Regions from separate parts of the Homo sapiens genome. Here all the other regions are linked to region 1. Evidence: fine-mapped expression QTL. A gene starts in region 1. Each other region holds a variant in brackets. All regions are shown on one strand. Distances are between the middles of the regions. Region 1 holds the start of CDC42SE2 (CDC42 small effector 2). Region 2 overlaps LOC105379173 (a long non-coding RNA gene). Region 3 overlaps LOC105379173 (a long non-coding RNA gene).

Evidence for each region.
Region 2: its variant is fine-mapped to the expression of CDC42SE2 in whole blood (INTERVAL, PIP above 0.99).
Region 3: its variant is fine-mapped to the expression of CDC42SE2 in whole blood (TOPMed, PIP above 0.99).

The regions. Positions count from the first base shown.
Region 1 is chr5:131,262,522-131,265,283 of GRCh38, reverse strand. CDC42SE2 (CDC42 small effector 2) reads right to left here and starts at 1,231. Exons shown (of 5, transcript NM_001375635.1): 1 at 1,118-1,231. RefSeq lists enhancers at 1-769, 1,898-1,947 and silencers at 968-1,617, 1,648-1,697, 1,708-1,777.
Region 2 is chr5:131,401,220-131,403,981 of GRCh38, reverse strand. It overlaps LOC105379173 (a long non-coding RNA gene), which reads left to right. Exons shown (of 3, transcript XR_007058929.1): 3 at 1-2,762. Among named protein-coding and RNA genes, the nearest start is that of CDC42SE2, 140 kb to the right of the region's middle. The variant T/CTTT (reference allele first, on the strand shown) is at 1,363.
Region 3 is chr5:131,396,865-131,399,626 of GRCh38, reverse strand. It overlaps LOC105379173 (a long non-coding RNA gene), which reads left to right. Exons shown (of 3, transcript XR_007058929.1): 3 at 1-2,762. Among named protein-coding and RNA genes, the nearest start is that of CDC42SE2, 130 kb to the right of the region's middle. The variant A/T (reference allele first, on the strand shown) is at 1,482.

The DNA of each region.
Region 1 (2,762 bases):
CTGTTTTTAAGAAACAGAAAATGTATACCAACTTCTCTCAAACCAAAAGAGAAAATCCAAATTTGATATATATTTTCTATGTTCATAATATTGAGAGTAAGAACGGACTGTTCATCAACAGTATGTTATGTGGGACAAAAACTAAAAAACGTATATCAAAAATACATACTGTTTGCCGACATTCTTTCCTTAATCATAATCAAGGAGTATGTGCCTAAATTTTACTAGATGTGAGATAAGCTTTGTCTGATATTTCAAGATTCATTCATTCAACAAATACTTTACTGAGCACGTACTATAAGCCAGGCCCTTCAACGAAACATTTAGATTTTGTAAACTGCACATCACCCCCCAAAATTCCCCTAAAAAAGCTTATCATTTAAAATAATTGCAAGCTAAAGAGGAATCCCCAATGTTGTTTCTTACACATAGTGAAGTCAGCGGATCGGGGCGCTTTTTCAGCTGTTAATGCGGCATCAAGGAGCCGCTACCTACCACACCCGTTGCCTAAAATCGCAACTTAAAGCTGCAAGCACTGGGTAAAACAACCTGTAAGAGTAGCTCAGCTCCCGCGACGAGGTAGCCAAGGGCTTTCAAGCCCGGGGCCCGGGGCGAACCGCGGCAGGACCCGCGGACTGAACGCGTCGGGCGCCTCAGGCGAAGAGTCGGAGCTCCGGAGCCAGGTGTCTTTGCTCCCCGAAACCCTCACCTAGAGACCCCGGGCCCTCCCCGCCCGCCCCTCGCACCACCCTCCCGACTTCCAGACGTGAAAAGTTGGGGGGAGGGGGGGGGTCTGCCTTTCCATTTTACATCAGGCGGTCAGTTGGCTGCCTCAGCTGTCCGCCTGCCGTGAATTCTGAACTGAGCGTGTAACCATTCCTCAGAGGAAACAGAAGAAAAACCAAAGGCAGGGTCCTAGGGCATGAGGACCTCGCCCAAACCTGAAATGGAAGACGCAGGCTCAGCCCACAGCCCGCAGCGCGCGGCTGGCAAGGCCGGGCCGCGCTCACCCCAGAGCCCTCAGGGACGAGGGTTCGGGGCTTCGGGACCCCGCCCAAGGGACCGAGAGGGCGAGGCGTGGCGGCCGACGCGCGACTGGGGCTGGCATTGCACTCACCGTCGCCTTTGTCTCAGCCGCCCGCTCCGGCCGCAGCCCCTCTCAGCGCCGGCTCCGCGGCTCCTGCCGCCCCAACGCCTGCAGCTGCGCTCCCCAGCGCGCTCGCAGCTTCCTGGCTCCCCCTCCCCGCCCAGGCTCGCGCGCGGGTTGGGCGGAGCGAGAGGCGGCGCGCGCCCCTAGAGCGGCCGGAGGGGCGGGCGCCGTTGCGCAGCTGCAGCGACCGCAGTGCTGGCCCCGCCCCCCGCCAGGCCCCGCCCCCGCCGTACCTCCGGCATGGGCGAATCGGCCGGCAGGCGATGGGACCCCCGGGATTCGAGCCGCGCGGGTTAGGAATTGGCCTCTGTAGCTAACGGACGCCTGAGATCCGGGACTGCAGCACTCGCGGGAAAGGACGCTCCGAAAGATGGCGACCAAACCTGGGCGGGAGCGTGGGGGAGCCCCTTCCCACCCCGGCCCGGGCCGCGGACATCCGTGCGGAGGAGCGACGTCTGCGCACGTTGTGGGGCGGTGGACGCGCACAGGCGAGGGTGGGTGGGTGGGTGCTGAGCGGTTGTGGGATGAGGGGTCTCTCAGTAGCGGTTGAGAGCCCATCCTCTGACCACTGCTTTTTCATGTAAAAGTCAGAATCGTTCAATCAGTCATTAACTGGTTTAAGGCTGGCTAAACCACCTGGTTTGAAATGCGTGAAAATTACACATGTACTAGACTTCTGTGATTCCTTTGGGTGTGTATTTTACATATCTCAGAAATCAGAAACATGAGTGCCCTATCTAGCAGCCAGCAGTCCACCAAAATGCCTACAAAACTTTATCGTAAGTTCAAAAGGATAGCGTAATGCCACTGAAGTAAGCTCTCGAACCTGTAAGTAATGTATGGTCTTCCCCATTCTAGGTTGATGGCGAGGATTTCTAGTTACTCAGGCCAAAAACTTTATATCATCCATAACTCCTCTCATACTCTCATTTTCACTTTCAATCTGTCAAGAAAGCTTGTTGGTTGTACCTTCAAAATAGAACAGAGTGGGCAACATAGCGAGACCCTGTCTCTACAAAAAAAAAAAAAAAAAATTACCCTGGTGTGTTGGCGTGTACCTATAGTTCCAGGTACTCTGGAGGCTGAGGCCAGGAGTTACGTTACAGTGAGCCATCATCAGGCCACTGCACTCCAGCTTGGGCTGGACAGAGTGACACGTGTTCCAAAAAAAAAAAAAATTCTCCATCTTTCCTACCTTACTATTTTTCCTTTCATCCCATGACACTTCCCACCTTGTAACAATCTTTATAATTCAGAGTCAGCCCTCCGCATCCATGGCTTCTGCGTTTCTGGATTCAACCAACCACAGATGGAAAATATTTGGGAAAAAAAACACAACAATTTAAAAATACAAATAAAAACCAATACAATATAACAGCTATTTACATAGCACTTACATTGTATTATAAGTAATCTATAGATAATTTATACAGGAGGATATATGTGGGTTATGTGCAAATACTATATCATTTTATATTAGAGACCTGAGAGGATTTTGGTACTGGTCGTGGTCCTAGAGCCAATCCCCCTCGGATACTGAGGTATGCCTGTATTTATCTGATATGTTTAGCTTTTAGTGTCTGCCTTCCCTAGTAGAAGCTGGGATTTTTGT
Region 2 (2,762 bases), 140 kb before region 1:
AGTCCAACTTGTGTATTTTTACTTTGGTTTCCAGTGTTTTCAGTATCATATCCAAGAAATCATTGCTAAATCCAATGTCAAGAAATTGTTCCCTCTATGTTGTCTTCTAGGAGTTCTATAGTTTTCAATCTAATGTTTAGGTCTTTAATCCGTTTTAATTTTTACATATGGTATAAGGTAAAAATTAGACTTCATTCTTTTGCATGTGGATATCTAATCCCAGCACCATTTGTGGGGGTAAAGAAACAAAACTGTCCTTTCTCCATGGAGTGGTCCTTGCACCCTTGACAAACATCATTTGACCACACATGGGAGGATTTATATCTGGACTCTCTATTCTGTATATTAGTTTATATGTTTGTCTTTATACCAGTACCACACTGTTTTGATTACTGTAGATTTATAATAAGTTTTAAAATTACAAAGGATGAAACTTACAATCTTTTTTCTTCCAACATTCTTCTTTATCAAGATTATTTTCACTCTTGAGGGTCCCTTGAGATTCCATATGCATTTTAGGATGGGTTGGTTTTTTCCTGCAAAAAATGCCATTAAGATTTTTTAAATATTTTTTATTTTTGTTTGTAGAGATGGGATCTCGCTTTGTTGCTGAGGCTGGTCTCAAACTGCTGGCCTCATGCGATACTCCCACCTTGGCCTCCCCAAATTCTGAGATTACAGGCATGAGCTGCCACACCCAGCCACCATTAGGATTTTGATACCAATTGCATTAAGTCTGTGGATTGCTTTGTGTAGTATCAACAGTTTAACAACAGTAAGTCTTCCGATCCAAGAACACAGTATGTGTTTTCATGTACTGATGTCATCTTTAGTTTCTTTCAGTAACATTCTGTTAGTTTTCAGTATACATGTCTTTTGCCTCCTTGGTTAAATGTACTCCTAGGTATTTTTTTTTAAATTTCTGATGCTAATGCAAACAATTGTTTTCTTAATTTCCTTTTCAGGTTTTTTATTGTTATGACACAACTAATTTTTTGCCTGTTGATTTTTATACCTTACAACCTTGCTGAATTTGTTTATTAGTTCTAACAGGCTTTTGGTGTTGTCAGGACTAATGGAATAATTAGGATTTTTCTACATATAAGATTATGTTGCCTGTGAAGAGAGATCATTTTACAACTTCTTTTCTAGTCTGGATGCCTTTTATTTCTTTTTCTTGCCTAATTGCTCTGGCTAAGACTTCCAGTATTTTGTTCAGTAGAACTCATGAAAGTAGACAACCATGTCTTGTTCCTGATCATAGAGGAAAAGCTCACAGTCTTTCACCATTGAGTATGATGTCTGCTGTGGGCTTTTCATATGTGGCATTTATTACATTGAGGTAATTTTCTTCTCCTAGTT[T/CTTT]GAATGTTTTTATTGTGAAAGGGTGTTGAACTTTGTCAGATTTTTTTTTTTTGCATCACGTGAAATGATTATGCGGGTTTTTCTTTCATTCTGCAAATGGTGGTATCTTTATATTGAATGATTTTCCTATATTGAACCATTCTTGTATTCCAGGAATAAATCCCACTTGGTCATGGTGTGTAATCCTTCTAATGTGCTGTTGAAATCTATTTACTAGCATTTTGTTCAGGATTTTGCATTGCATTTTACTTGCTGCTTTCAAGATTTCTTCTTTGTCTTTGCTTTTTGATTATAATGTTTCTCAGTGTAGGTCTCCTACTTGTTAATTGAGCCTCTCATATTTATATTTCCATTTCATTCCTCAAAGCTGGGAAATTTACAGACATTATATTTTTCACATAAGGTCTTTTCCCCTTTCTCTCTTTCTTCCGTTTGAGACCCTTTTAATGTATATATTGGTTGGCTTGATAGTGTCCCTTAAGTCCCTTAGAAACTCTTCACTTTTCTTCATTCTTTTTGTACCTGATTCAGCACCTTCAAATGTCATGTCTTCAAGTTTGCTGATTCCTTCTGCTTCGAGTCTTCTAGAGAATTTTTCAATTCAACAATTGCATTTTTCAGCTCCAGAATCTGGCTTTTAAAAAAATTTCTCAGCCAGGCATGGTGGCTCATGCCTGTAATCCCAGCACTTTGGGAGGCCGAGGTGGGGATCATGAGGTCAAGAGATCGAGACCATCCTGGCCAACATGGTAAAACCCCATCTCTACTAAAAATACAAAAAAAAAATTAGCTGGGCACGGTGGCACATGCCTGTAATCCCAGCTACTCGGGAGGCTGAGGCAGGAGAATTGCTTGAACCCAGGAGGCGGAGCTTGCAGTGAGCTGAGATCGCGCCAGTGCACTCCAGCCTGGGCGACAGAAACTCTGTCTCAAAAAAAAAAAAATTATCTGTTAATATTCTCATTTTGCTCATAAATTGTTTTCCTAATTTTATTAAGTTGTGTTCTATTTTAGCTTACTGAGCACATATTTAAGATACTTGTGGTGTTTTTGTTTTGTTTTGAGACAGAGTCTCATTCTGTCACCCAGGCCGGAGTGCAGTGGCGCAATCTTGGCTTACTGCAACCTCTGCCTCCCAGGTTCAAGCAATTCTTCTGCCTCAGCCTCCTAAGTAGCTGAGACTACAGTCACGTGCCACCATGCCCAACTAATTTTTGTATTTTTTAGTAGAGAGAGGGTTTCACCACATTGGCCAGGCTGCCTTGAACTCCTGGCCTCAAGTGATACACCAGCCTCAGCCTCCCGAAGTGCTGGGATTACAGGTGTGAGCCACCACACCCAGCCCGACAGTTGTTTACATACTTTGTCAAGTAAGTCAGAGGTCTGTGTTCTTTAGGACT
Region 3 (2,762 bases), 130 kb before region 1:
TTTGTTGATGGTAAAATGTATGACACAGTTTGGATATTTGTCCCCACCCAAATCTCATGTTGAATTGTAATTCCCAATGATGGAGGTGGGGCTTGATGGGAGGTGTTTGGGTCATTGGGGCAGATCCCTCATGGCTTGGTGCTGTCTTTGCAATAATGAGTTCTTGTGAGATCTGGTCATTTAAAAGTGTGTGGCACCTGACCAGGTGCGGTGGTCATGCCTGTAATCCCTGCACTTTGGGAGGCCGAGGCAGGTGGATCACCTGAGGTCAGGAGTTGGAGACCAGCCTGGCCAACATGGTGAAACCCCGCCTCTACTAAAAATACAAAAGTTAGCCAGGTGTGGTGGCACGTGCCTATAGTTCCAGCTATTCAGGTGCTGAGGCAGGAAAATCGTTTGAACTCAAGAAGCGAAGGTTGCAGTGAGCTGAGATTGCACCACTGCACTCCAGCCTGGGCAGCAGAGCAAGACTCCATCTCAAAAAAAAAACAAAAGTGTGTGGCACCTCCCCCACAACTCTCTCTCTTGCTCATGCTCTGGCCATGTGATGCCCCAGAAGCTGAGCAGGTGCTAGCACCATGCTTCCTATAAAGCCTGCAGAAGCGTGAGGCAATTAAACCTCTTTTCTTTATAAATCACCCAGCCTTGGGTATTTCTTTATAGCAATGCAAGAAGGCCTAACACAATGTGTTAACTATATTACTAACATCTCAGCTTCAATGTCACTGTCTCAGCACGGTGATATTTTAAACTACAATTCCTCTCCTACATCCCCAGTTATTTATCCAGAGCACTTACCATTTTCTAATCTGTTACATAATTCACTTTATTTGGCTTAATGTCTTTCTGCATCCCCCCACTAGAATAAAAACTCTTGGAGGCTTAAGAAATTTGTTCACTGCTGTATCCTCAGTGTCTAAACAGTACCTGGGCACATAATGCTCGATAAAAAATGTTTTGAATGCATGGTATCTTCCTGCTATTGAATGGTATCCATTTAATCATGCTTCTTGTAAACAGTTGTTCTAAAAATCTCTCATTGTTTGTTCTAATTTGGATAGAATGCCTTCTAGGTTGGCTTCAGACCTAGAAATCCTGAGATTTAATTTTATTACTGGATTTGTTCTCTATTCTTGCAGAGTGTTTTCAGGATGGGTGTGTGGAAAGTAAAGCCATTCATTGCTAGTGTAATCATCTTTATTCTGCCATCTTACTTCATTGAGAGTATGGCTGTAGACAGAATTCTAGTTCAAAATAATGTCTTCTCCAAAGTCTGAGGGAAGTGCCCCCTTTTATTCCAGACCACAGTATTGCTGTTGAGAAATCTGGTAATCTTCAAAAGTTGAAGGGATAATCAGAGAAATAATTATTTCCCAGAGCTGAATATGAGAGTCTTCAGAACAAAACGTCCTTGAGGGCTGTGAAGTGAGAAAGTATAAATGTAAAAACAAATTTTTTGAAATTTCAAGAGACTTTTTTTT[A/T]AAATCTTTTTCCTCTGAAGAGCATTTTCCTTGCTTTTTGTAAAACTCCCGTTAATCACAGATTGGACTGCCTGACCCTCTACTGTGTCCTTCACAGTAGAATGAATATTTCCTAGATTCTTTTGTTGTTGTTGAGACGGAGTGTCACTGTGTCGCCCAGGCTGGAGTGTAGTGGCACGATCTTGGCTCACTGCAACCTCCGCCTCCTGAGTTGAAGCGATTCTCCTGCCTCAGCCTCCTGAGTACCTGGGATTACAGATGTGCACCACCAAGCCTGGCTAATTTTTGTATTTTTAGTAGAGATGGGGTTTCACCATGTTGGCCAGGCTGGTCTCGAACTCCTGACCTTGTGATTTGCCCACCTCGGCCTCCCAAAGTGTTGGGATGACAGGCGTGAACCACTGTGTCCAACCCTTAGATTCTTTTTTTAAAAGAGATAGGGTCTTGCTATGTTGCCCAGGATGGACCCAAGTCCTGGGCTCAAGTGATCCATCTGCCTCACCCTCCAAAGTAGCTGGGACTACAGACATGCGTCACCATGCCCAGCTGATACTTTTCTAAAATGTCTATCTGATCATACTAGTTTCCTATAGGAATATCAGATTGAAAAGAGGGAAGAAGGGACAAAGGACTGCTTGTTTCTGTTTCTGGTTTTAGGAGTAACAGATCCTTCTATGCTATTGGCTTAGATGGTCTGTGGCCTTAATTCCATTGTGCACAGATTGGATGTGGCTGCATTTAGAGAGGGACAGTCGAGTCCCTTATTAGGTACACTTACGCTGTACCTATCCAGAGAAAATCAGGTGAGCAAAACCTACATACACTTGTGAAAAATGATAATAGGACACAATGGACATTATGGACATTGGAAAGAGATTGAACTTAAAATTACCCCATTTGGAATCTGGGTGGTTTTGCCAAAAGACAGAAGCAGAGTGGTTTTTACTTCCTTTGCAGTATTTCTGAAAAGTAAAAACAGTTTTTTGCAGAAACCCAGAAACAGCAGCTGAAATGTTTTACATACTCCCTAAGGAAGCAGCGCCCAGCAGATGAAGCCCTGCGGGAGAGCACAGCAGCAGCGGAGGCTCTGGGGGAAGGCGTGGTGTCTAAGGCAAAGGACTCTGCCAGCTTACATATTTATTTGAAAGACACAGACATAAAAAGGATGAATATGTTTATATAACTTAAAGCAATGGTTAAGAAATAGGTAACTAGGTGAGGCTCTGAAGATTTTGAAAGAAGTGTGTTACTTGCTTGCTGCTCCTTTAAGGGAGAAAAACA